6 separate regions of the Homo sapiens genome follow, and regions 1, 2, 3, 4 and 6 are each linked to region 5. Evidence: fine-mapped expression QTL. A gene starts in region 5. Each other region holds a variant in brackets. All regions are shown on one strand. Distances are between the middles of the regions.

The links. PIP is the estimated chance that this variant, and not a neighbour inherited with it, causes the effect. A credible set is the group of variants that fine-mapping cannot tell apart.
Region 1: its variant is the best candidate, but not a certain one, in a credible set for the expression of CHST2 in blood mononuclear cells (TOPMed, PIP 0.62).
Region 2: its variant is the best candidate, but not a certain one, in a credible set for the expression of CHST2 in whole blood (TOPMed, PIP 0.74).
Region 3: its variant is the best candidate, but not a certain one, in a credible set for the expression of CHST2 in whole blood (INTERVAL, PIP 0.89).
Region 4: its variant is the best candidate, but not a certain one, in a credible set for the expression of CHST2 in whole blood (TOPMed, PIP 0.56).
Region 6: its variant is the best candidate, but not a certain one, in a credible set for the expression of CHST2 in whole blood (INTERVAL, PIP 0.66).

The regions. Positions count from the first base shown.
Region 1 is chr3:143,376,600-143,381,911 of GRCh38, reverse strand. All of the region lies in intron 13 of SLC9A9 (solute carrier family 9 member A9), which reads left to right. Among named protein-coding and RNA genes, the nearest start is that of SLC9A9-AS1, 37 kb to the right of the region's middle. The variant G/T (reference allele first, on the strand shown) is at 2,332.
Region 2 is chr3:143,239,742-143,245,053 of GRCh38, reverse strand. No RefSeq gene overlaps it. Among named protein-coding and RNA genes, the nearest start is that of SLC9A9-AS1, 100 kb to the left of the region's middle. The variant T/C (reference allele first, on the strand shown) is at 2,673.
Region 3 is chr3:143,603,905-143,609,216 of GRCh38, reverse strand. The region is part of intron 6 of SLC9A9 (solute carrier family 9 member A9); the gene reads left to right. Among named protein-coding and RNA genes, the nearest start is that of SLC9A9, 240 kb to the left of the region's middle. The variant A/CTCTA (reference allele first, on the strand shown) is at 2,222.
Region 4 is chr3:143,213,868-143,219,179 of GRCh38, reverse strand. No RefSeq gene overlaps it. Among named protein-coding and RNA genes, the nearest start is that of CHST2, 97 kb to the right of the region's middle. The variant T/C (reference allele first, on the strand shown) is at 2,013.
Region 5 is chr3:143,117,610-143,122,921 of GRCh38, reverse strand. CHST2 (carbohydrate sulfotransferase 2) reads right to left here and starts at 3,151. Exons shown (of 2, transcript NM_004267.5): 1 at 2,381-3,151; 2 at 1-2,278. The coding sequence starts at 2,105. The coding sequence ends at 513. RefSeq lists enhancers at 510-1,151, 1,794-2,435, 2,759-2,808, 3,094-3,593, 3,789-3,918 and 1 more and silencers at 1,609-1,968, 2,029-2,228, 2,289-2,368, 2,419-2,468, 2,499-2,548 and 1 more.
Region 6 is chr3:143,597,648-143,602,959 of GRCh38, reverse strand. All of the region lies in intron 6 of SLC9A9 (solute carrier family 9 member A9), which reads left to right. Among named protein-coding and RNA genes, the nearest start is that of SLC9A9, 250 kb to the left of the region's middle. The variant T/C (reference allele first, on the strand shown) is at 2,507.

The sequences.
Region 1 (5,312 bases), 260 kb before region 5:
AAGGGAATTCAGGGTGTTGATAACTTCTAGCATATGAATGCTTAGAACTAGCATGTACTTGCAAGCCTCTCTATGGCAGCAGGAAGTCTGGAAACTTTACAAAGTATATGATGGCTCTTGGAATGAGGCACTTCATAGTTCAAATCCCTACCCAGCAACTTGCTAGCTAGCCAACTCAGTGAAATTTACACAAAGTATGTCCAATGCATGTTGCACAAACAACAAATTGACTTATTTCTCCTGGATAGCTTCTCATTTATCAGGTCTAAGGCCCAAAAAACTGTCTAGGTGATCCATCCTTTGACTTAATTGAGCAACAATTATCTACAGAGACCTGAAAATCCTTTGGGGTAATTGTTTAGAACAATGAGTTCTTCCCTCATATATTAGTTCATTTTCATAATGCTGATGAAGACATACCCAAGACTGGGTAATTTATACAGGAAAAAGGTTTAATGGACTTACAGTTCCACATGGCTGGGGAGGCGTCACAATCAGGGCAGGAGGCAAGGAAGAGCAAGTCACATCTTACATGGATGGTGGCAGTCAAAGAGAGAGCTTGTGCAGGGAAACTGTTTTTAAAACCATCAGATCTAGTGAGACCCATTCACTGTCACAAGAACAGCATGGGAAAGACCCATCCCCATAATTCAACTACCTCCCACCAGGTTCCTCCCACAACACATGGGAATTGTGGGAGTTAGAATTCAAGATGAGGTTTGAGTGGAACACAGCCAAACCATATCACCTCAAGTAGGGGAAATGCATTCTCCAAACTGAATTTGAACCTAACGTCAAAGTAGAATCTATCAATGTCAGTTTTGCACTACCATTTTAAACTCAGTACTTGTCACAAATAAGAAAATGTAGGGAAATTTTACACCTTTTTGCTGAAATTAGAAGTAGGCAGACATAGATATAATAGGAGAATATCATAAATAAGTGATATTGCTTAATGAATTGTGTTATGAGCGTATTTGTATTCTAAGGGAATCCCTCTCTTTTATTTCATGCTTGTTTTTCCAATAACACCATCAATGAGGCACAACTGGTGAGTTTTCCTGGGCAAGACACTGCTTTCCTGGCACACACAGATGTGAAAAAGAAAGGAGCCTGTGCTCTGTGGAAAAGGCTGGGAAATTAAGTTGGTGATGATCCTGGCTCTCATGTACTTTGAGGTTTTTTGTCACATGTGTTCCAAGGCCAGGCAGTTTCCACAGACTCCATTGTCCAGGAAACACACCTAACTGCAGGATGGAGCACAGCAGGGGTGCCCAAAGCACTGGGATTAGAGCCAGCCTGGTGACCTTAGAAAGGAGATCAAAGCCCATCTCCTTACACTGGTGGGCTATAATGAATAGTCAGTAATGTCTGGTGGTGGCTGATTTTTAAAAAGCATTTTCATCTTGTGTAGGTCAAATAATTCATTCTCCTACCTTCAAGAAAACTTTTATCTAAATTTTGTCCTTCTTGTATACCTTTTTCTTTAAAAGAAGAAAAGACACAATTATAAAATTCATCAAATAAAATTCTCTGTCTTCTTCTAACTGCCTAATATTCTACAATCACATATACTGTTATTGGTAAAAATTTCCTACTAGCCTAAATCCTTTCCAATTTAAATGTATTTTATTTTATCTCATTCATGTGACACTTTAAAACAAAGTTCATCATTGTTAAATCAGTAATAACCCTTACCTGAAGATATTATAGCAATTAAAGTTACTTTTTTATTAGAGAAATAGGATAGCATAACATAGAACAGTGAAAATTCTGTGATATTTGGGTCTTGGGCAAGGTGTTTACACCTTTGGGTCTCAGTTTCCCTCTCTATAAAATGTAAATGATAATAACGTCTGCCTCTCCAGGATGTTATTTATGATAATCAAGGGAAATTGGGTTTATGAAAATGACCCAACTTAATTAAGCTAAACCCATCTCATTTTATGGATGATTGGAGGCAGCTTAAACCACCACATATAATAGTAACATATTTTTATAGAAATTTTAAAAATCAGTAAAAAATATTAATAAGAGCAGATAGTCAAAACCAGAGGGGTATAAAGAATCATGGATAAGCAGATCATAAGGCCTTATAGACTTACTGTAGTCAAACCATAAGTAAGCTTTCTGATGGCCAAAGGGGAAATAAAGAAATAATAATTGGTAATATATTAAATTCACATCATTAGAAGGAAAAATAATACCCTCTCCTCAAGTGACACGAAACATCACTATGTTTTTAAAGACATTTCTCACTTGGGGCCTCCTGTAGAGGACACATACAGCACTATCTAAATGTTAAGTAAGTAGCGTTATCATTGACATGGC[G/T]CCTCCTGAACTGCTGCTACCTACAAATGATTTCATTTTTAAGAAGTATACTGTAAGTGTTCTTATTCATGATAATGTTCGATTACCAAAGAACTTACGTTTCAGAAAGAGGTTTTCTCCACACATTGGGATAATGCTTATCTTCAGTATCAAGTACAGGAAACAGTGGGCTCTGATGGGAGGTAACAAGCTGCAGTGTCCTCACAGCTGCCACTGAACCTGGACCGTTTTTTGGTACTTCCCAAACTGTCAAGAACCTCTCTGCTCTCATTTTGCCTGGCAACACCTGTCTTATTATCAACATCTCTTGCTCTGTTGGATTATGTAACATAACCCCAATTCTTAGGAGGATTGTATGTTTCCCCTTGATTTGCATTTATTAAACTGGGTTTGCATTAACAAATAGGTTAATCTTTGTAATGGGCAGCCTTAACACATACACAGAAACCCTTCTTACTTACCAAAGGCTAAAAATTTTGCAGGTAGTTATAGCTGTTACTGATTATACACTCTCAAAATCAAGAATAAACTATATATATATATTTAAAATTATATATATTAATATGTTTTTAAATTTCTTCTTTGTTCTCTGCTGTGGAAAGTAAAATAACTTTTGGGAATGTGAACTTGTAGCTGTGGCTAACTAGTAATGTCACAACTTTCCTTTTTGCCATACAATACCTTTAGAATGTGAATGGTGTTACACAATTATTTGTACCAGGCACAAAAGCTTTAGAGAGCATGTTCCATATGCAGATATCACACTCTGGATGCATACTTCATGCAAACGTGCTAATTTGAGAACTGGAAGATACTGCAGTTGTGAATTTTATGCCTCTTAAATGTGAAAAACAAAACCCTCAGGTAGCCTCCCACACAACAGGAAGTTTCCCTTGTAATTGATTCCTTGTACTTGAAAGCACACCTTTTCAGAGTAGGTGAGAGTCACTGGAGCACCACACTTGCCTTCAGTCCTTTAATAGAAAACTCCTGCTACTCAAGAAAGGCTGCCAGTATTGCTTCTCTTTTTCCCTTTTGCCATTTGATCGTACTCACTCCCATATTCGTTGGGCACTAGCTATTATTCTTAACACTGCTCTGAGCACCTTATATGCGTTTGCTCACTTAATTTCCAAGATAACCCTGAGTGGGTACTATAATTATCTGCATTTTACAAATAAGGAAATTGTACACAGAGACAAAACTTGCCCAAGAACACACAGAAGGGAGAGGTGGAATTTGAACCCAGACAGTTTGGTTCCAGAGCTTCCACTCTTAACTGGTATGCGTGCATGTATTCATTCATTTATTCATACAAGTAATTCTTGGTACCCACTCCTACGGCACTAACGTAGATGTGAGGATTCAGGAGTTACCAATTCAAAGCTCTCTTCCTCCCAGAGTATATACTCTATTGGGGGACACTGATAAGAAAAAGGTAAACTGCATTCTATACATTCAAAGCATGATCACAGTAAAGCAGGTCAGAGGATAGAGAACAGGCGAGGAGGCTACTTGGTCAGGGTAGAAGTGGCATTTGATCAGAGGCCAGATGATGTGTGGAGGAAACAATCCATGTGAGAAGGGGTTGAGGAGAGGTAGTCTGGCAGAGGCTACAGCAAGTATGGAGGCATTGGAGTCACAGTGGGTTATGGTGTGCACAAAAGCAGCAGGAAGGCCAGCATGGCTGGAGCTGAGTAAGCAAGGTGGGAGCGGATGGAGAAAAAGTGGGAGAAACAGACAGGGGCAGGGGCCAGACCATTGGCCATGGTGTTAGGTTTGAGTTTTTTTCTAATGTGATAGACACCCTTGATGGTTTGGTTTGGAGCTTGGAAGTAATAGAATTAGCCCATTAAAATAAATTTCTCCCCATTCCACCCTGCCAGCTGTTGTGATGAGGATAATTTTCATCTTTTTTCATACAATTTCATTTTCTAACACTATGCTTGTTACTTAATGGTTTCTCGACGTTACCTTCCAATTTTCTTTTGTTTCTGAAAGTCCCTTCATTGAAATTCTGGTTTTGGTTGTCCTTTATTCTTGTGTGTAACCTGGGTGGATCCGTTCTGGTCACTGCAGCACATGAAAGTCAGCAGAGCTGAGAAAGGTCTGAAGAAGGGCAACTTCAATAACTGACAGAGGGACCTGCTGCCAGAGCAGCAGGGATTAAAAGGATTAGGATTTTTCCATCAGAAAGACTAGAACTACGAAGGGGCACAACAAAGTATCTGTAAAAATATGAAAGGTGTAAAGCGAATGAAGACTTGTTTGCTAACTCCCAGAAAACCATAACCTGGAATACCTTTGAAGCCTGGAAGAGGCCATGGGTGAATAATAAAAGTATTTGTTCTTTTGCACAATTGATAGTTCTTATTCAGGGCCTTCCAGAGTTGCAAGAGTTGGAAATATAAGTAGGTTCAAGAAGGGAAGAGATTAATTTAGCAGATAGTGGGGTCATCATGGTCATTAAATAAAATTTTTCTTTGTGAATATTTTCAAATGTTCCTAATAAACACAAAGATAAGAGAATAATGAATCTTAACATACCCATCCCCCAAACTTAACAGTTATCAACATTTTTCCATACTTTCTGCATTTACTGCTCCTGTACTGTTGGAGTTAGTCTCATAGAGTGTAAATTTCACACTACACTTCTACGAATATTTCAGAAATAGAATACGAGTCTCAAAATTTGATGTGACCCAGGTGAGAGCTTTTGTAATGTTATGTCATTCCAATGTCATTGTAACTAATGGTATTTTGAGAAAAATAAAATAAACATTTCAGAGAAAATATCTTGGGTTTTCCCTTGGCCAACATTGAATTTATTTTGGTTATACTTACTTATGGCTTTTAGATTCAAAATTATGTCCTCCCCCTACTAACTTTTTACTGCATAGGACTAAATTCTAAATTCTATATTTTTATCTTACCGGTAGTTCCTGCAAGTACATGTTCTAGAAAGTAGGAATGATAATAAG
Region 2 (5,312 bases), 120 kb before region 5:
ATTTGCTGGAGGAAAAAAATTCCTCCAGCACCTAAGCTTTGGTCTGAAACATTGTTTCAGTTTCCTATGGCTACTGTAACAAATTACTACAAGGTAATAAACTTGTGTTGTGTACTTAAACAACACAAGTTTATTACCTTGTGTGCTGTGTACTTAAACAACACAAGTTTATTACCTTACAGTGCTAGGAGTCAGAAGTCCAAAATCAGTCTCACTGACCTAAAGCCCAGGTGTAGGCAAGCTGGTTCCTTCCCGAGGATCTGAGGGAAGAGTCTGTTTCCTTGCCTTTATCTGCTTCTGGAGGCTAGCTGCATTCCTTGGCGCAGAATCTTTTCCTCGCATCATTCCAACCTCTTGCGTCCGTCATCACGTTTCCTGCTACTAACTGGGATCACCTGATCCCTGCTCTATACGGACTCCGTGGTTACATTGGACCCACCTGGATGCTCAGCCTAATAGTCCCATCTCAATAGCCTTAATCACACTCGCAAAGTGCCTTTCAGTGTGTAAGGTAACATATTCACAGGCTCCAGGGATTTAGATGTGGCTATCTTTGGGAGCCATTATTCAGCCCACCACAAGTGTCACAGCCATGGGTGGGAACAGGAGTAAATCACACAACTGAAATACAGTTGCTAATCCTTAAAGGCTGAGCTCTGAGTGGCTGCATTCTCAAAGACAAGAGAAGTCTTTGTAATTTAGATACCAACTCTGCCTCAGGAAGAAGATACACATGTGAAGTGGGCTGGCCTGGGTTAGTGTGGCACTCAGGTCACCACAGGACATTCACATGGACCAACACAATTCCCAGGACTGGCACGATGTAAGGAGAGAATACTAATAGGGCCCAACAGACACCTCCCAATCCCGGCCAACTTGACATTTTAATGAGTAATTGACACCAGATTCTCAAATATAAAGAGCACCTAGCATGTTTAGGATCTGTGTGGCTTTATTTTACAATATATAAACTGGAATGAAAGCTGTGTTGTTCTACACGGTGTTCTTAATTATTTCTTCTTCTTGTTTTTATAGAGTTCTGGGTAGAGAATTCCTTTAGATCTTGTTTGGCAAGTAACCTGACCAAAGGTCCTAACTGAAGCTGGTGGTCAGCATACCGAGGTCCAAGGTGGCACTGAGGGTCAACGCCACACATGACAGTCCTGTTGACTGTGCCTCCCGTTCCGAAGTCAGGCATGCTGAGAGGCCCTCATTAGCCTGAATATCTCTCCAGCCACACCTGTCACAAGACTGTAAGTCAAAATCTGTTTCATATCAAGCTTGGCTTCCAAATGAGGTCTCTTTGAATACAGACTTGTCCTCTTTGGCCGCATGGCCATGAACAACTTACCTAACTCTTCTGAACATTAGTTTCATCACCTATAAAATATAGATAATAATCTATATTTTAAAATATATCTATAGTATATCTTGCAGATTATTATGATTGTAATGGATAAAGTAGAATTATAAATAATGTTGGAGCATAGCATTCAGTGAATAGTAGCTATTGTTATTGATATGTTTTTCTGACCTGTGAAAATGGGACAATGATATACACAAGATTGTTGTAAGAACTGAGTGAGATACCTTATGTTAAGCACCTGACACAGTATCTGACACTTAGAAGATGCTCGTAAGGATTCATTCCCAATCCCCTCTTTCCCTGCATCCTCACAATTACTCTGTTGAGGTTATCAAAAAGGGAGAACCATCGGCTCCAGGAAACTGCTGTCAAAATCAACCTTTCACCTGAGACAACCCTCCACCCCACCCTATACCTCTCCTGCCGGTTCAGAGGCATAGACTCATTTTTCAGATTATCTCAACGTGTACCCCTGCCCTTAGCCTGCCCCTAAGGAGACAGGGAAAACTGTTTCCAATGGGACAGGACACTAAGGTGTGCAAGAAGGTATATACTAGGGGCCTCTTATTGAAAGATCCTATGAGTGACAGAAACACAGCTTCATCAAGCTTAACAAGAAAAAGGTGGAGTGAGAGATTTGTTGACTCACATAACAGAAAAATCCGGTAAGCATATCTGGTAAATATGACTGGATCCAGGTATTTAAAAGATGTCAAGAATTGTCTTGCTCCATCTCTTTGCTTTCCTCTGTTCTCTTTCTCTTTGTCAAGAAGCAATCCGCCTCAGGGTGGTCCCTGATCACCAGCTTAGCACAGAGAGAGTCTCTTTCTCAATAGTTCCAACAAGATCTGTAGGCCAAAGTTCACTGAACCATTTTGAAACAGGTAACCATCCCTAGACCAGTCACTTAGCCAAAGGAATGTAGCATGCTTTAGCCAGGCCAAGGAACGTGCGCACCCTTGGAGCTCAGATATATATGTTGAGGGGAAGAGGAAGTAGTATCAGCTCCCGCTTGAATTCCATGGATTGAGAGTTGGGGGATGAGGAGTTTGCCAAAACAACAGTGCTAGGATTAAAAGAAGTAGAAGCAGATGCTGGGGAAGCAAAATCTTCCAGAAGACCTAAGATACATGGGGCCTGGGTCAGCCTGGCAACATGAGGTCTCCAGGCCAATGTAGCAGGCCCTGGAGGTGGGAGGAGAGACACGTAATTTCTAAGCAGCTCTTCAGGTTACAGTTCTTGCTTTGTCTGCCTGTCATTAAGTGGATTACCACAACCCATCAGCCTTTCAAAACAGTTCCTACAA[T/C]GTCCATGGTTCTTTTTATAAAGAACAGCGTGCTATGAAGAGCACTTTAGAAGAGCTTACATTCTCAGAATGTGAATCAAGGTCTGGGTTAAGCCAGACAAACAGTCATTTGACCTTGCTGCTCTGTCATGGACAAGCAGGGGTGAAAGGAAGGATATGAGCTGAGACAGGTGGGCAGAAGGAGGTCAGAGAGCTGATAACCCCGGTGCTTGAGTCACCTTGTTTCTCAAAGGATGCTCTGAAAATGGATAATAAAAACAAGAAAAGAATCTTAAAAATCAGTTTGTTGATCAGTTTATTGTGTGGGTCCCCACCGAACCTGACCACATTGAAAATGGCCATGTGTTCCTGACTCAAGGCATCCCATCTCCTAATCAGCCCTTAATCCCTAGTAGCTCTCCAGTTACTTCCATGGTTACCGAGTCCCCTTCTTTTGAACAACCAAGGGCCTCAGGAAAGACTAAATAAATTATAACCATTAGTTCCTTTTATCTACTGCTTTATTTCAAGGACTTCTGACAGGTTCAAGAAGCATAATTTTACTCACTCCCAAGGCATGCCAGCTTGTTCTGTTCAAATTCCACCCAACCCCTTGCTTTAGAAGACTTTTCAGTGATTCTGTTTGCGTCGTCTGTCTCCTTACAGAGGAGTTATATCATCAGTCTGTAATTCCCAAGGATAAGCCAAGGATTCTGCTTTGGCATCTGCAGTGTAAAATAAATGTGGCTTAAATTAAAAATAGAGCAAAGTTCTGACCTGTTTGGCCATGGCTCTACATCGCCTGCTTTTCAGGATGAAGTGGTTTTGCACCAAATTGGCAAGATAGCCAAAAATATGCTTAACCCTGGCCACAGATGAAAATCATTCAAGGAAGTTTTCTAAAATAACCAGGCCTGGGCTTCACCCCAAACCAATTAAACACACATCTTTGGATTTTGGGCCTAAGTTCCGGAATTTTCTTTCAAGTGTGCAGAGGAGTTGAGAACTACTAGGAGAAGATGTTGGGGATCTCGGGACATTGAGTCCAAATCGGCATTTATGATTCATCTTCAGGCTGGTGTCACCTGAGAAAAAAGTCTGAGGAGCTGTGAGTCCCATTTACCGTGTCTTGGGTATGTAAGGAGTACAAGTTTATGAATTAAAGGATCTTGAGTCAGCTTTAAAGGAGGTCAAATTTCCGTGCTTATGAGAGAAAAAAAAAAAACAACAACAACTCTATCCAGTCATAAAGGAGGACAATGACTGATAGAGGAAGTTTGTCACAAAAAGTATAAAAGATCAGACCATCTGGGTACAATTAGCAAAATCTTGCAGTGACAACACGTCAACATGTTCACTCTTCCCAGACTTGGATGCTCATTTGCTATATGCCCTTGGATGCATCTAGTACCCTCCCTTGCCAAGTTTACTAACTTAAGGAATGAGCATGACCTTCGTGGTACTTAAGAGATCCTTTAAAGAAACAAGAGGCATTCACCATTATCTAAAACTAACTTTTGACCTATAATAACTGAATGAAAAAGCAGTCAGCAGAAGTTAATGGAAGAGAGGGGCAAGTCCTCCTAATAAATGCTACCTTTAGCCCCCTCCCCATTGCTTTAATTCTGTTACTTAAAGGAACAAGGTACAAAAATTCTGGAAATGCAACAAACTAGGTAGAGAATATAAGGCTCCCTCAGTGCGCTGAAGATAAATACTTTGAAAAGTAAGCTAATCCAGAGATACTCAGAACTGAATTATGTTCAGGGTAAATTGAAGATTCAGAAGTCTTAATCTGTTAAAAAGTGTAAAAACCCACAAGTTTTCAAAGAGTACCCCAGATCTACAGATGTATTTGTGTGTTGTCAAAATTTCTTTTTTGTTACAGAGAAACAGGAAATAATAATAAAACTGAAGTGGAGGAGATGGTATTAACTATTGCAAAGCCACTTGACAATGAAAACTAGCACATAAAAACTAAACAATAGGCCAGGTGCAGTGGCTCACACCTGTAATCCCAACACTTTGGGAGGCCGAGGCGGGTGGATCACAAGGTCAAGAGGTCGACAGCATCCTGGCCAACATGTTGAAACCCTGTCTCTACTAAAAATACAAAAATTAGCTGGGCATGGTGGCACGTCCCTGTAGCGCCAGCTACTCGGGAGGCTGAGGCAGGAGAATCACTTTAACCCGGGAGGCGGAGGTTGCAGTGAGCCGAGATCACACCATTGCACTCCAGCCTGGTGACAGAGTAAGACTCCGTCTAGGGAAAAAAAAAAAAAACTAAACAATAATATACAGTGAGAAAGACTAGAGTCAAGGTTGATATACCAATGCATCTTGGCATTTATTCTTTGAGAGTCTTCAGTACTCCTAAGACAAGTAGCTGAGAAGGTGGACTTAAACTCTTTTTTTTTTTTTTTCCTGTGAGATGGAGTTTCACTCTTGTTGCCCAGGCTGTAGTGCAGTAGCGCGATCTCGGTTTACGGCAACCTCCACCTCCAGGGTTCAAGTGATTCTCCTGCCTCAGCCTCCCAAGTAGGTGAGATTACAGGCACCTGCCATCACGCCTGGCTAATTTTTTTTTTTTTTTTTTGTATTTTTAGTAGAGATAGGGTTTCACCATGTTGACCAGGTTGGTCTTGAACTCCTGACCTCAAG
Region 3 (5,312 bases), 490 kb before region 5:
CTGTTATTTGCTTACCCTGACACAACATGAAAGCTTCCCAGGAATCTGTTCTCTTAGGTCATTTGCTAGGGTTGCAGTGGATCTATACATAGCACAGTCTGATGGAGAATAGACTCATCTTCAACCCTGCTTTCACTCACTGGAGTGAGAAAAATGGATCAGATAAGGGAATTACAGAGCACCACCCACAACGAACCGTGTCGCATCATAGACAGCTAAGGAGTTTACGTAATTTCAAATTTATTTTATTCTAGATAAAAGTTTTAAAATAATTCAGCTATATACAGAAAAAAACTAGCACTCATCACTCAGATTCTTTTTCAGCATTGATATTACTTTAGAACTCTTTTTAAAAGAATAAAATATAGCAACAGCCATAGTCCTGTTCCTCCCTATTCTTTCCCTTCCCCTAACACCCTTCTCTGCACAGGTAACCACATCTTAACCTCAATGTGGGTCCTTCCTGACCAGTTTTTCATATGCGTTATGTCTGTCTGTACCCATAAGCAATATATAACAGATTTCTATATTTTTAAAATTTTACATAAATGGTATTATACTGTACTTATATGTTTCAATTACATTGCATTTAGCTACCAGTACCAGAAAAAAAGTCCTTCCACAGGATATTAAAGAACTAAGAATATTGTTTGTCTGCATAACAAGAAGTCTAGGGAAAGCCCACCGTGGTGGTCCTTGGCCCGCTGATGTCATCTATCCATCCTGCTTCACTATCCTGGTGTGTGACTCTTCACCTGTTGCTTGCAAGTTAGCAAACTAAACCTCAGAAGTTCACATTCCAGGGAGGACAAAGAGGGAAGACCAACAGCCAAAAGCCTTGCTCTTGTTAAGTTTTATCTTTCTTTTTGGGAAGGGGAAAACACCCACAGATGTTCACTGCATATTATTTGCTAGAACTGATGTACCCCTTGCTGCAAGAAAGGGCAAGTTGCTGATTCTTTTAACTTTTCAGCACCCTCAGTAGAGAATATCACCAGAAAAATAAAAAAGGAGGCTATTGATGACTTTTAGGTAGCCAGTCAAGAGTCTGCTCTGTTATCCTTTTACAACTTGCTTTTGCTATTCTTCACCATTATGTCTTTTACAATTTATCCATATTGGTAATTCTAGACACAATTCATTCATGTTAACTGTTGTTTAATATTTCATTATATATTACACTTTATTTGCGCATTTTCTATTACTAGACCTTTGAGGTGTTGTCATTTTTTCAGTATTCCAAAAATGCCATGTGAATATCCTTCTGTATATGAATATACCTCTTTGTACTCCTGTGAAAATTATACATATATAAGTTAAAAATATTTGTGCTATAAAACATAACACATTTAAAACACATATAAATCACATGCCAAACATTTATATATATTAAATATACATCTGTTATATATGTATATATAAATATATCTCATACCTTATTTTGTGTTTTCAATGTAAATGCTTTTTCTAGGGTTCTTGTTTTCCTCTTTCCTGATTTTGTTTGGATTGATTATTGAATTCTCTATGTCCCTTTTGTTGTTGTTGTTCTATTACTATGGAGTGACTCTTTCTAGTTTCTTCCATTATTTTAGTCATTATCCTTAAATTTTAGCCTACATAATTAACATAGAATACATAATTAACAAGCTCTGAAATAAACAAATATTCCTAGCATCATCCTGGACACTATGTATAAATTAAAATGCTTTAATGATTTTCATCCCTTCCGTTATTTATGCTATCAATTTGCTAGTGTTTTAGTTCTACCTTATTTTTAACCATTCAGTAATCATTATTATTTTACAATTAGTGGTTACTTTGGCTTCTCTACATGTTTAACAGTTTGTTTGCTTAACAATGCTTCATGCACCTACTCTTTCCTCTGTGTTCAGTTTTATTCTTTCTGAAGTTTTTCCTTTAGTGATTCTCTTACTAAAAGCATATGATTAGTAAATTATCTCGGTAGTAGTAATTTAGCAGTAATTATTATTCTTTTGCTTAAAAATCTATTTTGTCCTCACTTTTGAAATATAGTTTATCTGGATATAGAATTCAAAATTAACAAATATTTTCCCTCAGAACTTTGTTGATATTAGGTAATTATATTTTATATTTTTTTGTATTTATTTTGTTTTTGATATTGATTTAAAATATGCTCTGTAATTGTTATTCTATTTTTTAGCTAATCTGTCTTTTCTCTCTGGTTGATATTTTACTTTCT[A/CTCTA]TGTATTGTATTTTGTACAGTTTTACTACAGCAAATCTGAGTGTTTATTTTACTTATTCCACTCAGAATTTGATATGTTTCTTCAGTTCTACAAAAAAAATTTCTTAGAATAGTTCCTCTCTCACCTACCTTCTTTCTTCTGCAACAGATATATGTTGGACTATTTTTTAATTTATTCTGCATGCCCATTAACATTCTTTTACATTTTACCTTTCTATCTTTTTGTTTTTTAACCTGTGTTCTGGATGATTCCCTCAGATCCTGTTCTAATTCTCGGTTGAGCTGTGCCAACTGAGTTTTCAATTTTATTGCCTATGGTTTACACTCTAGATTTTAATTCTTCCTTTTTCAAATTGTCTAGAGTCCTATTCTTTCATTGTATTTTATATTTAATTTAATGATATTTTTAATTATTTAAATGCAGTTGTTTTAGAAAATCTTTCAGGCTGTTCTGTTTCTATCTTTTTACACTACTAGCTCTTCTTTTTAATGTTTTTAAATTATCTGCCTTCCCTTCATAGTGGTTTTATATACATATATATATATATATATATATATAGAGAGAGAGAGAGAGAGAGAGAGAGAGAGAGAGAGATTCACTCTTTCGCCCAGTCTGAAGTGAAGTGGCACCACCTCAGCTCACTGCAACCTCCATCTCGTTCCCCCAGGTTCCAGCAATTCTCCTGCCTCAGCCTCCTGAGTAGCTGGGGTTATAGGCGCCTGCCACCATGCCTGGCTAATTTTTGTATTTTTAGTAGAGAAGGGGTTTTGCCATGTTGGCCAGGCTGGTATCGAACTCCTGACCTCAGGTGGTCCACCCACCTCAGCCTCCCAACGTGCTGTGCTAGGATTACAGACCTGAGCCACCGTGCCCAGCCTATGTATATCTTTTAAATATTTTTGTGAGACAATGTTAGAATGAAATGAGAAGGATATTAATTTATATGATTCTTCAGGTCAGTTAAAGCAGCACCCACACATCTTTTGTGAGGGTTTTCTTTATAAATAGCATGGAGCAGAGCTTATCGTTCTCACTGTGGGTTTTCCCTTTGTTTCTTACCTCTGGGGATTTGAGTTCAGCTATGTGTTTAAAACATTGTTATAATTTATATACACAAATGCAGGAGAGATTTCTCTATCAGCTTATTTGTACTTGTATCTGGAACCATCTTTTAATGGCTTTCTGAGGTTGCATAACTTGCTTAACACGGTTCTATACACCTGTCAGCACTGAGTGATGTCATAAGGTCACCGAAAACAAATTTGAGGCCTTAAAAGTGGTTTCTGTACAATTCCTTCAATATATGCCAGAGATAATATCTGCTAATATGATTGTCTAAAGCTTAAGTTACAAATGTGTGGTCCACAGGCCAGATCTCATCTGCAGATGTACTTTGTTTAGTCCACACACAGCTTAAATCTTTTATATGCGATGCCAACATTTAAAAATTGGCAAATTTTACACAATGGTTTAGACTTTCAGTTTCTCTTAAACAAACAAGCAAAAATAACCAGAAAGTTCATGTTCCAACACTGCAGCCCTGTGCCAGTGTGTGGGAATAGCTGCTGGCTTGGTGTGTTGGGGTTCCCATCATTCTCCTGGGTTCCACAGACAGGTTGTTCCTTTCCATCACAGGTGTGGCCTTGCAGGCACCTGAGTTGGCAACTTCTGTTCTAAAGATTAGAACAAGTTATAGTGTACCATCAAAGAAGTCACCATTAGAATCCTACCAAATGTGTAAAGGGCTGATGAATCTGGTTAGCTGCTGAATGTTTGAGCACTCAGGCACTTCTTTAATACACTGAGATCAGGATGTTGGCCCTGCTCTTTTGATGCGCTCCAAAGGAAGTATATTTGTTATTTGGGGCAACAATCTAAAGTCCTGTAAAGAAAATATAGAGACCACTTGTAGTAAATATGAACATAATGCGCTCCATGTGGTTTAGACAAGCAGAAAAGGGGCTTTCACTTCTGCTTCATGTTGGTGCATTTGTCCCTTTGTGACGCTTAATGGTTCCTGCAGAAGCAGAGCCTCCAGAATTCAGTCTCTAACTTGTTTCAACCGGAGGGGCCCTCATTGAAAACTTGCCAGAATCTGTGGGCAATGAATAAGAATTGGACATGTTTCCAGTTCTAAAGTATTGCTTCTTTCTTGTTTTGCAAGAATTCAACAATATCACAGCTGAGTGGGAGTACTGTAAACTGTTATTAAATGGCTTTATTATTCTCTGGTAGGTTAGCTATTTATAATTTAGCCAGTACCTAATGTGGAAAAAGTAGCTTTTACTGTATTGCAATCTCTTCCATGTAAACTGTGTTCTCACATACTCGGAGGCATATTAATTGTGTTTGATTTGCACTTTATATACTTCCACCTTCACTCCACCCCACTTCAGTCATACTAAACTTCTTCACCACATCCTAGACAACTATTATTTTCTCTGAGCCTTAATGCCAGCCTCTCCTTCTTCATCAGGCCCAGTTCTGGTTGCCATCCCAACTCAGGAGTCATCTTCTCTCACTAGCACTCCCAGCTTGCTACATTTACTCTATGAAGACTGTGTCTGTCACCTAGTTTTATGCTTGGTTCTCCACATAGCTCTTCATCACTAGGTTTTGAGCTCCATAAGAGAAAACCTTACTTCTTGTCTTATTCATCTATGTGTTTCCAGAGCTTCGCACCCTGCTTGGCATGTAACAGGGAATCAACAAATTCACAGTACCTTGAATTAATTACTTCCATAAAGAACTTGAGTGGGCTTACAGGGCTAAGGAATATTTATTTCAAAAAGGATAACTAAAAGTAAAAAACTGTATCACTTTCTTAAAAAAAATGTGTATCTGGCACAAAATAGACCTTAATTTAGAACTAAATTTTATTCAGAGCATCCTGGCAACAGAGTGAAAAGGAAAGCACGTCAGTTTTTATGATTCTGCAGGTCAGTTAAAGAAAATACTCAAGTCATCAACAATGTGTTTTTTTCTGTTATCGAATTCTGTGAGAAATAAAGCATGAAGTGACGTCATAGACAATGTTCTTGATTATAGTCTTACAAAAGACACAGAAGAATTCTTCAAATGCACCTTCTA
Region 4 (5,312 bases), 96 kb before region 5:
TGGCATTTAATACGTGAAACTTATTTTAAGTTCAAAGTGGGAACTGAAAGAAATCAAAATACTTTACCCCAAAACATATTTCTTTGACATATTTTGAAATGGCTGCCAGCAGACTGAAGTGGTCTTGCAAAACTGCCTTTTGTGGGGGAATTTGCATCTGTAGAGAATCTCCATTAATGCACCCAGGTGTTTCCTTTCTGGGCCTTTCTGGGATCTAGGAGAGATGAACTGAGTCTGACACTTTAAAAGTCTGATATATACTCTTCCTCTCTCTCTCTACACACACACACACACACACACACACACACACACAAACACACATACAATTCTAACAAAACTTGGAAAAGGCATTTGAAAGCTTTTATTGCTGCTTACTGACCTGGAAGATGCCTATGATTTCCAAATTTTCATTTCCAACTGAGGCCATATCAACAAATATGTAACTGTCTCTGCACCCTGTGGGTGATGTTGTTGTATTCATCATGGGCAGTAAATGCAGGGCTGTGTGACACACCCTGAGCTTCTCACCCTGAGCCTGGGCCATGTGGCCAGCTGGTTGGGAATCACTAGAAAGATGCCTTCCTGCAGCTTAATTATTCCCCTCACTCATTCTGTCCACCTCTTCCCGTAATCACTCCACAGTGGAAGCAAATCTAGAGACAATTTTGTGAAAAACACAATAGTTCTTCTTTTTAAATGCAAAATAATCAGTCTTCCCCCAATAGCACTTACCCAACCACATAAAAGAGCCAGCAAGACCTCTATCTAGAAGCAAGTTTGAGAGAACGACCCCACAGATAGGAAGCTCTAGGACAGATGCAGCTCCCTACCATAGCAGCACATGCTGGGCTTCTCTGCCTCAAAAGCCTTCAACTGCATGGTTTAAATAAGCAATTTCATGTTAGCTGCTCCTATTTCAAGAAGACTTGAAATAATGTTTTTCTGTAAATTAAAAAGAGATTTTATTATTATAACAAGTCAAACAACAAGAAGAAAAGATGTTAAAGAAAAACAGGAACACCCTCCTCCCTCCCCACCCCTAAGGGCATCCAAGTTAGAAACTTGGCCATATACTTTCCCACCATTTTCATGATCATTTCAATGTTTCTGGGCACATATGCATATGTACAAGGTGGATTGTTTGTTTCACAGATATTTTTAAAGATACTATACCACACACATTACTGCACAACTAAATTACTATTTCTACTTAGATAAGGTATTAATTAGACTCTGGCTTTGGTTCCAGGTAACAGAGATTCAAATGAACAACACAGAAATTTTTTCTAAAAATAAAATTAGAATTAAAATTAATTTTTTTTTTCTAAAAAAGGAGTCTATTTCTGCCTGACTTAACAGAAGTCCAGGGACTTTCTGGAACTCTGTGCCATATATTGAAGAATCCAAGCTCTTTCTGTTTTATTGTTCACCTTCTCCAAGCAGTACCCCTCATCCTCATGGCCTAAGTTAGTTTTCCATCACAGCCAGGTTCCAGGAAATAAGATGGAGGAGGAAAGGGGGAAGAAAGGGCATCCCACCCCACTCTCCACCTCCTTTTAAAAACACAGCAGAGAAGTTGCTCATCTCACTTTCCCTCATATCTCATTAACTGATCACATGGCTATACCTGGCTGCAAGGGAAACTGGGAAGTATAATCTTTTTTTCCTGGCAGCTATGTACCCAGTGAAAAATCATTGAAAGGGGTGGACTTATGAGGAGCTAGGAGGGGAGGTGTAACAAGCAGGCTTTGCCCCAGATAGAGCACCTCCTATAATACATGTTGCTGTAAATCATTCTTTTTAATAACTGCTCAGCTTTCTAAAGTGCAGCTGTATCATAGTTTGCCCAGCCATTCACCTATTTCCAAAAATCTGGGTTATTTCCAGGTTCTTTTTGTTTGTTTTCCCTTTGCCACAGCAAGCAAGAATATTGATATTGAGTGGGAATTTATCAAATACTTTTAAACAAACCTACTGCATTTTAACTCTTCTTCACTAACAGGTGGAGGGAC[T/C]GTCAAATCTCTCTTCTTCTATATTAAAGACTCTTGAAGAAGGATGACGAAACACATGTAAAAGGCCACAATCCTGTCTTGTTTTCTCTTGTCTTCTAGGTGCTTGTTATTTCCTTCTCAGTGAAAGGAGCTGCAGACGCTCACGTAAATAGAACTAGACATACTTACTTAACTAAGAGGAGGCTGCCTTTAGGGAAGAACAATGACTTTGCTTATTTTCTTCAGACAACAGATTATAAGCTATATTCTGGGAGGTAAACTCTTCAGTTTCACTTTCCCTCTGAAGCTGAGAGTTTGTAGCTCTGGGATTCCTGGCAGGAAAATGGCTTTGGGTTAGAACAGGGATTCTCTGTAATCTGAATGCACAATTATAATGCAGTCTTGGGAGAAAAAAATAAAAAGAGGAAAGGGGGAGGAAAGAAGGGAGAAATGATGAAGGAAGGGAGGAGGGAGAGGGGGAGAAAAGGTTGTGCAGCAACACTTGAGCACCACAAACATGACCAGACAAGAGGACCTCTGTCTTGGTTAAGTCTCATTGGTTGTAAGTAACGAAAAGTAACTCAAATTGGCTTCAATATGGAAAAAAAAAAGAAATTTAGGAAGATATAGGAGTATCTCAGGAGCCAAAAGGAAGGTGGAATAAGGGAAGGATGGAAGCCAAAAAGAGGAGATCTATCTGGCAATCTGCTTCTTGTTTTCTTTCTGCAGGCCAGCCTAGAAGCGTCTCTATATACGTATGAGCAGAAGGTAACAATATCAACTCCCAAGACTCCATCCTATCTCTTCAAAAGACCAGCCCAGGCTGACTAGTCATATTCTTAATTCCGAGTTTTTGGAAGAAAAAAATCTAGTTGGTCCAGCTTGGGTCAGGTATCCACTCTTAGTTCAATCAACTCTGGCCAGAGAGGCAGGGTCTGGAAGTGGAAACCTGGCTTCTGGGACTTCAGCCCTGTGAATAAAAGTATAGTCCTACAAGAAAGTATGACTTGGAAAAGCTAGGATTCAGTTCTGCTCAGCCACTTGTTCCTCTGGCCTTAGACAAGTCACTTAAACTTATAGGCCTCGTCTTCCTCATCTGTAAATGAGATAACAATGCTTACCTCAGAGAATTATCATAAAAATTAAATAAGGCTGTAAATATGATACAAAGTCTTAGTGATCAATGGAACCATGAGTAAAGAAGGTAAAACAACATGAAGTGTCAAATTGGTAACATCAATTTGAGAACACAAATTTATCTTCTCCAATGTTGTCATTTCTGAAAGTGGTCCAATAGCAGCAACTGCATCCTGCCAATCAGCAACTCAAGATATTACTCCTAGCACTCAAATCTTGGTCTATAAGAAGAATCAGGATCCTTTGAGGGTAGAAGATTCCATATTTTGTGAAAAGGAAAATTCAGATGAGTCTGGAATAAGTAAGGAAGCTTTAAAGAGTGTTATGGTCAGTATTAAAAGTAAATGGAACCTGTGTGAAGAGACTCTGACTGGGGAACTTATGATAATTTGAGCACAGATTGATATCACACTTTATAGTTAAATAAGTTTTTGTGTGTACATGAAAGGCCATGAATTCTCAATAACACTCAAAACAAAAATGCTAATATAAATTATTCAAAATGGCAATTGTAATGGAAAAGAAATGTGAACATAATAAATTATGCTTAATCTGTATTGATTTATTACAAGTATAAAACCAAAGTATTGTTTTGAGTGTTTTTAATGTGTTCTGGAGATTATAAGGCAACTATATATGCATTTTTTCCTTAATGTGGGTTGGCAGGAAATAGTGAACATAAAAAAAGTTGTCGGTAAGCCAAAAAATTATGGAAAAATTAGTGGCCGTGTATCATAACCAGAGACACGGGGAGTCTCTGTTATATATCACATCTGTTAACTATGGTGGTTGCATACAGTGACCCATTGCAAAGGGTTCAGCCAGGTGCAACAAGATGATGAAATGGCATGTTGCAGACTAGCTTTCCCAGGAAACGAACTCTGAGATGGAGATGGCAGGCAGGGGGTTTACTGTGGAGTGTTCTTGGGAACAATTCCCATAAGAGAGTGAAAGAAACAGGACAGAGGAAGAAGTTGAAATGAAATACAATTGCAAGAAAGGCCATAGGCAATCCCGTGGGGAATCATAAAGTTGGGATGGCCCTCCAAGTGGCCCAAGGTGAAGCAATAGGCCAGGCTTTCCTACCCCTGCATTGACCAGTTACTAAATCAGGCTTTACCCTAGATCATGACCTTGGACAAGGTAGCTTCCCTTTGACTGAGGGAAATTCTTGAAGAGGGACTTATCTATGAGCCATAAGCAGGCAACATTTCTGGGGAATGAGTTCCTTGATAGGGAAGGAAGGATCTGGGTGCACTACAGCATTCCCTACACTCCACTCCTTGTACCATTCAAATCCACTCCCTTCATATTTGTAAGTCTATCCCATTTAGAAGCAACTCCTCCAGGATTCCAGTTGGTCTCTTTTCCTGGGAAAGCTTGCAAGGGAAAGGTTAGTGGGGCGAACTTAACAGATCCCACCACTGCAGCTGGTCTCCAGTCTGCAACTAGAACATAGAGGTTTCCTGGGATGCAAGATTTTCAGTCATAAAACCAGGACAGTCTGGGGCAAACTGGGGGGGCTGTTACCTTGGCAGAAACTGATACTCAGCCTTTCAACTGATACCTCAGCTTCCTATTCTAGATGTCCCACACCATGAGCTAGCAACGCTGCCAATCTTGAGTTCCCTGTTCCTGACAGATCTAAATTCCTGGTTACCATGCTCTTTTTAGGCCATCAAGCTGCACCTGACCACTTACCCTCAAAATTAGCCAGACAAGAGTCAACTCAATTTCTTGGGTGCCAAACATATTCTTTCCTGCCCCATTGTGAAACACTAGTCCTTCCTTCTGGGTATTATGGTAAATTAACTCTGCAAAAATGGTGACTCTTTTTCCTTACTTGCTGGTCTCCTGGTATAAGGATTCCAAAGCGACTAGGTGCCACTCATAGTTTAAAGTTTAATGAGACTTATACAGTGTTGCCTAGTGGATAAATTCAGGAACTGTAGACCTAGAGTAGAGATGGAAGCAAAAATTCCTCAAATGGGCCACGGAAAGTGACAGTAAACTGTACCACCACTATATGTACCCTTGACTTCTCAGACTCATGTACCCTACCTATTAGGGAAATAGCATCATATAATGAATGTTGATTTAGGGCATATACTCTATCCTTGAGGACGTCACCCTATCCTTTTAGGGTATCTGCTCTAAGCTAGCACCTCAGCAGTACCATCAAAA
Region 5 (5,312 bases):
CTTTGCTTTTTACACAAAAGTCTGCTTTAGAAGAATGCCTCCTCGGCTTATCATGCCCAATGGGGCTTTTTGTTTCTGGACCACTTCCCCTTTCTCCACCCCCACCCCCACATCCAAATTACTCTTAACATGTTCACAGATACCACGAATATTTTGTAAACAAGATTTGGGTTACTGGAACTTGATTTCATTAACATCCCACTTCAAAATGGAAGGCAGGTGGAGGACAGGGTAAGAAATAGGAGAAAGAGGACAAGAGAAGGCAAAGAAGAAGAGGGGCACCTGGTCAGAACGTTCAAGTCTTGCCTTTTCTTAGGGGTGTGTATTTTGTGGCTGTTCCTTGAAATGCACTGACTCAAAACATTGACAGCAAGTGTGTGTGTGATTATTTATATATCTATAATAGAATATGTGGGCTTCCTCCGTTTGAGTCTGGACTGTGTTTATTTAAACACACTACGATCCTCTTTATAGGTATCACCACAGGGAATCAGGTCTCCTGGGAACCCCTTTTAGAGACGGGGCTTCCGAAGCAGGGTCTTGCTGAGGTCTTTGACCTCCTCAGGGCTGTTGACCCGCTCATAGCCCAGGACGGCCATGGGCTGGTAGCAAAACTCCTCCACCTGTTTGATCTGCTGGAAGGTGAGGGCGGTCCGCCAGGCATTGGCGGCCTGCGTGGCATTGCGTGCAGATACCACGAAAGGCTTGGAGGAGGAGCCCGAGCCACTGGTCATGTTCAGGGCAAACTGCTCCATTTCGGGGCTCACCAACAGTCCCACAAAATCGTACACTCTCCGTAGTGTCTTGACGGGGTCTCCCACCAGGTCCTCGTACCGCACCACCAGGTAGTGGCCCTGCAGCCAGTCAGGGGGCTGCAGGGCTGTCTGCAGCGTCTTAGCCATACTATTGCAGATGACCTCCATAGCGCCCAGAGCGTGGTAGTCTGCGGGGCCGCCCACGCCCTCCTTCTTGGCGCCAAGCTTGTGGCCCGCGGCCTCCAAGAAGGGCATGCGGTGAGCTCGCGGGTCTCGGCTGCGCACCACCTGTAGGCTCTCACGGATGAGGCCGTGGCGCGAGCGGATCCGTGAACTCGCCACCGCGCGGGGATCACGCACCAAGTGGATGACCTTGAGGTCCAGGGCCGGGTCTCGCAGCAGTGGCGCCAAGACCGCCACGTCGAAGACGCGCACACCCTTTATGACTAGTGTGCGGTACTTGCGGCACTCCTCCTCGAAACGCGCCAGGCGCTGTGGCGGGCACTTCTTGCACACGCGGTCGTCCACCAACCCCACGACCTCCTTGCGGTAGGCGGGGCAGAGTGGTGACGAGCACACCACCTTGTTGGTGGCTGCGCCGAAGATGCCCAGCGTGGTGAGGTTGCGCCCCCCGCTGCCCGCGGGGCTATACAACTGGAAGACAGAGAGGTCGCAGCGGTAAAGAGCGCTCAGCATGTCCCGCGCTGCCCCCTGCAGGGAAACGGCGTCCCCCGGATACAGTTTTTGCCATACATGCCACACTGGCTCGTAGAGAAAGAACACCTCGGGATTCTGGTTGAATAGCTCGCCGAAGAACGACGAGCCAGAGCGCCACGTGGTGAACACGTACACCAGCTGCCGCTTGTCCCCGACGCCCCCGGTGCCCCGAGTGCCATTGCCTGGAGGGGCCGCAACCCCCGCCATCCCTGCCGCGGCTGCAGGAGCCGCCCCGACGGCGGCAGCGGGAGGGCGGTAAGGAGTGCGGAGGTCCAAACGGGCATGAGCACGGGGCGGCCCGGCCGGAGGCGGCCCTGGGCGCCCCCAGCTGCCTCCGGCTGCCCCCGCTGCGGCACCCAGCGGCCCATCGGGGTTGCACTGCTGCAGCGGCTCCTTGTGCCACTTGTAGTCCAGGAGGTTGAGCATAGTGAGCACCAGCAGCAGTGCATAGCCCGCGCACAACACCAGCGCCTTCCTACGGAACACCTTCATTCCGAGAGGGGACGCGGGCCAGCGGCGTCCTGGGCGCCGGGGCCACTGCGGGAGCAGGGCACGCGGCGCGGCTGCAGGCGCAGCCTGGAGCAGCCGAGGGAGCGCGCCCGGGGGCAGAGCTCGCTGCGGGCTGCGGCTCATCACAGGCACAATCCGGGCCGGCGGCGCGGCGGAGGCAGCCCTGCAGCCCGGGAAGGGGACGCAGCGGGCTGGCTGCTGGCGCCGGGACTCGGGCCGCGACTCCGAGGCGGGCGCGGCGGCTGGTCCCCAGCGCCCAAGGCTGGCTCTCCCATGGCAGCGGCTCCGGGTAGGACCTGCGAGGGGAAGCGGAGTGAGCGGATGCGCCCCAATCTCCCTCCCAGCCTCCTCCTCCTAAGTAACGCCCACCCTCGGTTCTGCCCGGTTCCTCCGCTCACCTGGAGCCGAGGGCGCGCCCGGGAGCGGCCCCGGATCACCGCCCGGCGGACTGTCCGGCTGTCACTCGTTCCTCGATTTCGCTCCCTCTCGCTTCCGCTGGGGGTCCCCGCACCTTCGAGGGGTCTGGGGAGTCGGCCGACTTATCCCTGGGCAGTTTCCGGGCAGCGGGCGCCCTGCGGCTCGGGAAGAAAAACTTTCACGCGGCCCAGAGCCCCGCTCCGCGCTCCGCCGAACCCGGCGCCTCCCGGCTCCAGCGACGTCTCCTCCGCTTTCTCGGGACCGCAGCTTCCTGTCTCGCTCAGGGGAACGAAGCCGGCTGGGGGCGATGGCTGGGGGCGGCTTATATGGGACTCAGCTCCCGGCATAGCGGCGCAGCCCCTCTCGCTTTCGGCCTCCGTGCGGCGAATTTTCCCACCTCTCTGGCAGCGGTGGATGGGGCACAGCGCGACCCCGCAGCGGCGGCGGCGGCTGCTTCCATCACCGGGAGGATGCCCGGGCGGACAGCGCAGGCAACCCCCGCCGCTCCGCAGCCTCCGACTGGACCAAAGGACCCCGAACACACAGCTCTAGGCAAGGAAACCCAGGTGTGCAGCACTGCCCGACCCGACCCAACCCGCCCCCGGTACCAGCGCTTCTGGCCAACGAGGTATTTAAGCAAAGAAAGACCCCGCCGCAGCCGCCGCCGCCGCGCGAAAGCGGCGCCCAGGAGGATGCTGCTACCCGACTCCCCTTACGCCGGGCGCCCGCAACGCGCTCGGACCAGCCTCTGCGCGGCTCCTGCCAGCCGGCGCCCGGTTGGTGCGCGCCGCCGTCTGTCGCCGCGGCTCCTCCCCTCCGCCGCGCAGCCCTCCCCCTTCGCCGGCCCCGCCCCCGCCCCCAACGCCGAGCCGGCTCCCACCGTCGCTGCGCCTCGGGGGCTGGAGACGCGACCCGCTTTACCGCGACGCGCGGGGGCTGCAGTCCACGGGTCCGAAGGCTTAGCTCTGCGCGCAAAGCGCCGGGATGCGAACGCGGGATCTGGAGCTCGTCGGTGCCGAGAGCTGCCAGAGAGTTGGATTCTGCGTGCAGCTGCCGGACTCGGCCCCATGTTTTTGCTCTCAGAAAGAGTTGGTGATGAAGTTTGGGCAGAAATCCCCTGTCGGCCGTCCGCTCCACGCTTCCCTCGGGGCCGACACTGCCAACCTCTCCGGGCACTGAGGACACCTCTGCGCCCTGGAGCGGTGGGAGGACGCGGAGCGCCGTTCTCTGGCTTCCGACACCCTGCCCGCCCTCTCTAGTGGGTCTGTGGCTGCGCCCTCTCGAAGGAAGTAATAAATCTTTCTGACCTTGGGGGTCAGAGGAGACGCTTCAGTTTTCCGGAGGGGTGTGCGGGCGGGACCGTCTTTCCGCTTTACTGGACCTCTGGCCGGGGCTGCTCTTGTTTCATTGTGCCCCACATGCGGAGCCCCGATGCTCTCCGCATTTCCGCTCGCGGTGCTGCGTCCACTGTGATTGACGTCCTCTGGAATTGGGGTGATGGGGGAGGGGAACGCCCCGTTCTAATTTGCAGAAAAATACTTGTCCCGCTTCTTGGTTTTGTAGATGAGATCAAAGAACTTGACCCCAAAGGAAACACCGTTGTTGAAAGAAAATCATTTTTCAGTTGCTTTAGGTTTAAGTACTTTTGTTTAAGGTTATGAGGAAAAGCGTCTCTCTCTCCCCCCAACTCCCTCCCTCCCCAAGAACACTAAGCTGTAGCCTCAACTTCATCTGTAGAATGGGGACAGTTGTAACAGCCTCCGGAGACTGAACGGTGGTTGAGTATCAGAGCGCGCACACGAAAGGTTAGACCTGAGTTCAGGCCTCCAAGTGCCGAAAAGGGAATCTCCGTGGGGCCTGAGGCTCAGCACCCTCGGATAAACAGAGCTCTCGCTGATCCGGAGTTTTGTTGCCTCCTGTCCCAGTAGAGTTTTTAGAAGTTACTGCACAATTATCTTTGTAGCGTTTCGGGCAGACTTTTCAGAGGACCGTTCTAACATTAAAATATTGCTGTTTGCGCCATTATTCTTCCATGAGTCTTACAGAATCCCCTGAGTACAAAGACTTGAAAAGTGACTTAACTCGCTTTCCACGGGTTTTTAACTCTCTTACGGATTTAGTTTCAGGGGAGAAAAATGTTCAAAAAACTTATTTATCCTTGTTTTCCAGAAAAACCCATAATGTCACGAGTACAGTTCAGCTTATTTTTTCTCCTGGGGAGGGGGATTGGGACAAGGACAGCAGAGCTCAAATTTTATATCCAGCTTTCTCAAATAATATGGCATTGCCTCTGGAAGTGGGTCGAGACAGGCAAGAATCCCTGTTAACAGATGAAGGTGGTAGAGTTTAATTGAGCGACTCCCCATCTTTTCCTTTTCTGGAATCCCCAGCCTCCCTTCGCCTACTCTCTCAAATGCCCCTGCCCCTTTTTCACCACCTCTTTTACCACGAAAACTAAAATGACATTGGTGCATGAAAAGACTGATGGGAGAGAGAGGGAATTGGGGAGGAAAGTAAATCTCAATTTTAATATTCAACATGATTCCAAGAAAAATAATTTCTAATATTTTTCATTTAGTTTCTGGCTTTGTGCTTACCCAGAAAAAAACTGAATTGCATTAGTCGATGTAGGGACCCTTTTTAAAAACAATTGTTTGCATAGAAATAATTCCGTTTGCAATTTTGTAACACTTTACTGGTGTTGGCAAAATAGTAAATCCATTTGCCAGGTGCCCCCACAGTGCTCAGCTGGCATAAATTTACGGGTTCTGGCATCTCCACCCTCTCCTTGCTTGCAAATTTTTCCCATTTTGCATGGTGTCATGATTAATTCTGAACTTTGTTATAGCTAATGACATCTGAAAACTTCATAATGCCTTCCTTCCCGCATTTGTTTGGAAATTCCTTTCATTT
Region 6 (5,312 bases), 480 kb before region 5:
AAGAGGAAATCTTGGCTTTAAAGCGCCATTATGCTCACATGTGGTCATCAGCATTCTTATCCACAAATCTTGGAAATGCCATTTCAAATGCTATATTTTTAGGAGGGCTGCATCTTAAATGGCCCTCAGGGACAGAGTTGAAACTGAATGAAGGGAATCGTTTTCCAAGGTTAAAGGGGTTTCTTTGGGGAAGTCAAGTGCTATCATTATCCCTATTGTACGGGTAGCTTCAGCAACTTACCCAATAATACAGAGCTAAGCATCAGATACCATATTCAACCAGGAAAAACAGAGTTAACCTCTATAATTTTAGACTATAGAATTGCCCCATTTGTGTCTATATTTCCTAGTCTTTTAAAAGAAATTATTAAAACATTTAAAATAAATGAAATATTTATTAAAGTACAATAACTATTATTAAACAGTTAAATTAAGATATTTAAGCATTAAAAATGTCTAGAGGGTAAAAGAATTGTTAAAATTAACTAAGTCCTTGTAAAGGCAGCTAGTGAATGTTTCGAGCAATTGACCTGTTCCAGCTGGCCTTCCTCACTGGAGAGAACATCTTAAGAGGTGGACGTTCACCCAGATCTCACGTTGAGATCTTGAAATGTGTTGACCTAGTTCTTGGGCCTGAGCCAGAACCTTAGCTGATGTCAGGAGCATGCACAGGAAGGAGGCTCTTTGCTCCAGACTGGGCTACGTGCTGCTGGTCCCATAGTGAACAAGCCCTGGACATGCCAAAACAATGTGGTCAAACAGCCCTGCTCGCCTCTAACTCTTGGCTGATTTGAGACAATAAATGACACAACACCAAAGTTAATTTCTTACATGATAATATTAAGGACAAATAAAACCTGTAGGAACAATTAGTTTTTAAAACTTGGAGAAAGACATTGGCTAAGAATTTAAACAAAAAAGGACATGGGAATACTGCTGTATATAGGCTGGAAAGGCAACAAAGTAGAATTTCTCCAGGAACTGCAGAGCAAGTCTGAGCCAGGGGAGTGTGAGTGCAGTGATGATGGCAGCAAGGGGTACTGCAGGAACAGTGAGGGTAGAGGGGGGATGTTGGAACAGTGGGGGGCATGGCACAATGCCATGTAGCAAAGTGAGAGTGTCTCGAGACCAGTGAAGGTGTTTCCTCCAGAAAAGCCTATAGAAGGGGCAGTGATCATGCAAAGTCATGTTCACATTTCATCTGATGTAGCCACTTATCAAATTACCTTCCAATAGATTCTTTATAGTAAACTTAATTTGAAAGCAATGATTTATTTGAAATCTGCAGCGCTGAGTTGGCACCAGAGGTGGGAGGGTTAAATACATGAATTTGGAAAGTGGTTTAATACCAGATTTTGAAACTGCACATAGAAGCACAAATGTTAAAAACAATCTGTGGAGGTGGTGTGTGATACAGTGAAAGAGCAGAGGTTCTGCAGAATAGAAACGCTGGCTCCCCCATTGACTGTTGAAATGGATTTCGCCAAGTCATTCAACTTGACTGAATTTCAATTCCAAATTCTACAAAATGAAGCTTACCACAAAATTTATTTCATGGGAATATGAAGAAATGCAGATGAGATATTGTTGAAGTCCCTTTGTAATTCTAAATTCTGAATTATTTTAAATTTGGGGGTGGGGAGGGTTACAAATGATTTCCCATCTCAAAAGACTGATTGTTAATTTGTATATTTATTGCCTATCTCCCTGAGTCCTTCCATGTCATATTCACTTGCATATCTCCAGCACCTACAATAGGGCCAGGCTGTCAGGAGGTACTCAGTAAATATTCATTGAATGAATAAACATGAATCTCAATAGAAACATTAATATCAGAATTACATCAAAGACAAGACATTTTGAAAAATAACCCCCCACTGTCATTATTGAGACTGTTTCTCCCCTCAACTTCCCATGTCTAAGAGAAATGAAATGTGTGCTTACACAAATACACTTGCAACATTTCCGCTTACATCCCCATTCACCACTTTGTTATGCTCAGTTGAAATAAATCACACAGAACTTCCTCCCTGCATTATTCTTCTGATCTCCAGCAAGCCCTGCCAGGAGTGAGAGAGGCAGCCCAGTGGGTCTCCTCTCACTTAGCCTTGGGCACAGTGAAAAAGAGGATTTGAAGTAGTTGAAAACATTTGTGGAGAAAATGTTTTCAGCCTTATGGTTAATTTAACAGTCTATATCTCCTATATTTCATTATTTTAGCTCCTCATGATAGCTATGAAATAATTTCCTAATTCTTTCCTTAGCCATGGTTGCTGACCAACATAGACATTTTCATGCTGATCAACCTCTCTGATTTATTGCGTTTTGGGAGGGTGATCTCAATTCTATGTAGGGAATAAGAATGTCACCAATCTCTGCAGATCATTGATATTTAGAAATAGTAGAGTTATTAGCTTTAAAGCTCAACTTACCCATGTGTTAATATTAAAATCTGATAAATTAATGAGTTCTACTTGTTGTATTTTTCACACACTTATAGAATTCT[T/C]GTCCATCCAGGGGAATTTCTTTCAGTTCTTGCTTCTCTTTAAGATAGCAAAACATCCTTTCTTATGGCTGTATAGTATTCCATGGTGTATATGTGCCACATTTTCTTTATCTAATCTATCGTTGATGGGAAACCATCATTCTCAATAAACTAACACAGGAACGGAAAACCAAACACCGCATGTTCTCACTCATAGGTGGGAGTTGAACAAAGAGAACACATGGATACAGGGAGGGGAACATCACACACCGGGGCCTGTTGAGGGGTTGGAGGCTAGGGGAGGAATAGCATTTGGAGAAATACCTAATGTAGATGATGGGTTGATGGGTGCAGCAAACCACCATGTCACATGTATGCCTATGTAACAAACCTGCACATTCTGCACATATATCCCAGAACTTAAAGTATAATTATAAAAAAAATTTTTTAATTAAAAAAAAAAGGTAGCAAAACATCTGGAAGCAGTACCGGGCTGGTAGGTAAAACGCCAGAGAACAATAATCGGGACAGTGACTGTTTAGTTGCTTTATGTTGGACAAGTGCATTCTCCAGAATTTTTTGTTTTGATTTGGTTTCTGGGATTTTTCTTAAATGGAAAGAGGCATTGATATCTTACTTCGATGATAAGACAGATGAAATATTCTGAGACCCTTTGATTTCTTACAGGTCTTGAGGGACGCATAAGATTTTTGTTTGTTGTAATTATTTGAAGTTCATTACATATTTTGTTTATGTATGACATTTTAATATTTAAGGATGCCTTGAAGGAATTTGGATTCCTTATTGCTCATAAAGCTTGTCGGTGGTCAGCCAGTAGCGCCATTTGCATCTCAATAGTGCAAAGGAGAGAAATGATATTTTGCAGGATCTTGGAGAGTATCCCTGGCAAGGTAGAATCAAACACAGGCAATTGTTGTGCTCATAAAGCCCCACGGCTTCTGTGGATTATGTGTAGGTCACATCTCAACTACAATTAATAGCAACCACCACCACTAAGATTGCTGACTACTCAGATGTTAAGCACAGCCGTATTTCTTTGCAAACAGAGGCTCTCCTTATAGAAGAAAAGAACTACTTATGCTTTCCAGGAAAAGTCCTTTTATTATTAGATTCCTGAGCATTTGGCGTTTTATACTGTTTATAATTCAATGCTCTTAGTAACAACAAAATAGCTGTAACTGATTGGCAAAATATAAAGAAATTCAGAAACATAATTATGTTTTTTACGAGTTAAATAGTTATATGAGATGGAGGACTATGGACAGGAAATATAATTTCTTTTAAAATCCTTTCCCCATGAGGCACACGGTAGGCTTTCTTCACCTAACTATTCTTCTGCCACAGTCCCATCTGGTGCACTGCACCTATGTGACAGAAGAAATAGCTCTCCAGGTCAGTGAGGGGGTAACTCATTTGAATCTTGTTTAGAATGAGGGATTGAGGCGACCTGTGGGTTCTACTTACATAATTTTCAGCATCTGGCTTGGCTAGCAAATCAATGGCCTCAAAACAAAAATAGAAACAAACAAAAGATTCCTGTTCCCTGAGAAAGATAATACCATTGTTCAGGAAATGGTGAGCTTGACAGGTATCTTTTTGTCCTTATTGGTGCCTACCAGACCACACACAGAGAAAACCAAACTCCCTCCATATTAAAGGACAAGGGCAGCAGCAGGCAGCACGCTTCCTCTAACTGGAAAGTGGAGAATGATTTTAAAAACTTGTGTTGACTTGCTTGCTTGCAGCATTTTAATAACATGTAGGTAGGAGGCCACGGGACTTCAGAAAAACAAGTACTGAGCCCCATCAGCAGTGCTTGTTCTTGTAATGTTCCGGGGTAGCATGTGCGGATTTGGAGGAAGACGGTGTCTTTTTCAAAGGAGGCTATTGGAGGAAGTTATAATCACAGTGTAAATAGTGATTCACTGGTACAAAGAATCTGCCTGAGAAAACTGGGTAGAAATTGAACGCTCACTAGCGCCACTAATTTACCCTCCATTAGTGTCCTGAGCTTCAAGTGAAAGCAGGAGGCTCCTCTCAAGGCACAGCTACAGCCCCATCCTTTGGCTCTACCTGGACTTTTAGACACATCTCCTTAATTCTGGAAAAAGACAGGAGTGCCATTACATCTGGGCTTATTTCGTGATGCTTCATGGAAACAGCTGCGTTGCCTGTCTTTGTATGGATACAGTTTTTAAAAATGAAAATCGCCATGGCAACAGCTGCAGCTACTTATTACAGAGCAGTGGAAATGACGCTGGTATCGGTAGGGAAAGCTATGCTCTCAGAATAATGTGTCCCTTATACTGGATTTTACCCACTAACATTTTCATTTAAAAAAAAAAAGATAAAAGTTGAGAATGTGTTCAAAAGCAATTTACCAGGGACTGGAGAGCTCAGGGAATTGGTAAGTGGGTACAGAACCTTTTGTCTGCAGGCCCCGAATTGAGCTGTTGACAACAGCTCTCGATACTGCGATTCTAGGGAAGGCAGCGCCCACTGCTTATGTTTAACCCCACAGTGCCGAATATGCCACTCTACACAGAGTTGCATAATGGCGTTGACAGTGATGATTAGAATGTTAATTGAAGCCAGTTTTCTGCACCTTTTAGCGCCATACCTTCCTTACAGCTTTGATAAATCTCTACATTTGAGACTATAGGAACCACTTGGCTCCTGCCTGCCAGTAAGTGTAAAATAGTTTAAAAGTAAGCTTTAATTTCCTCTTAACTCTATTCTGAGATTAACAACATCTTTCATGGCTGTCAGATCCTGGGGTCCAGGTCCACACCATGCTGAAGTCCGA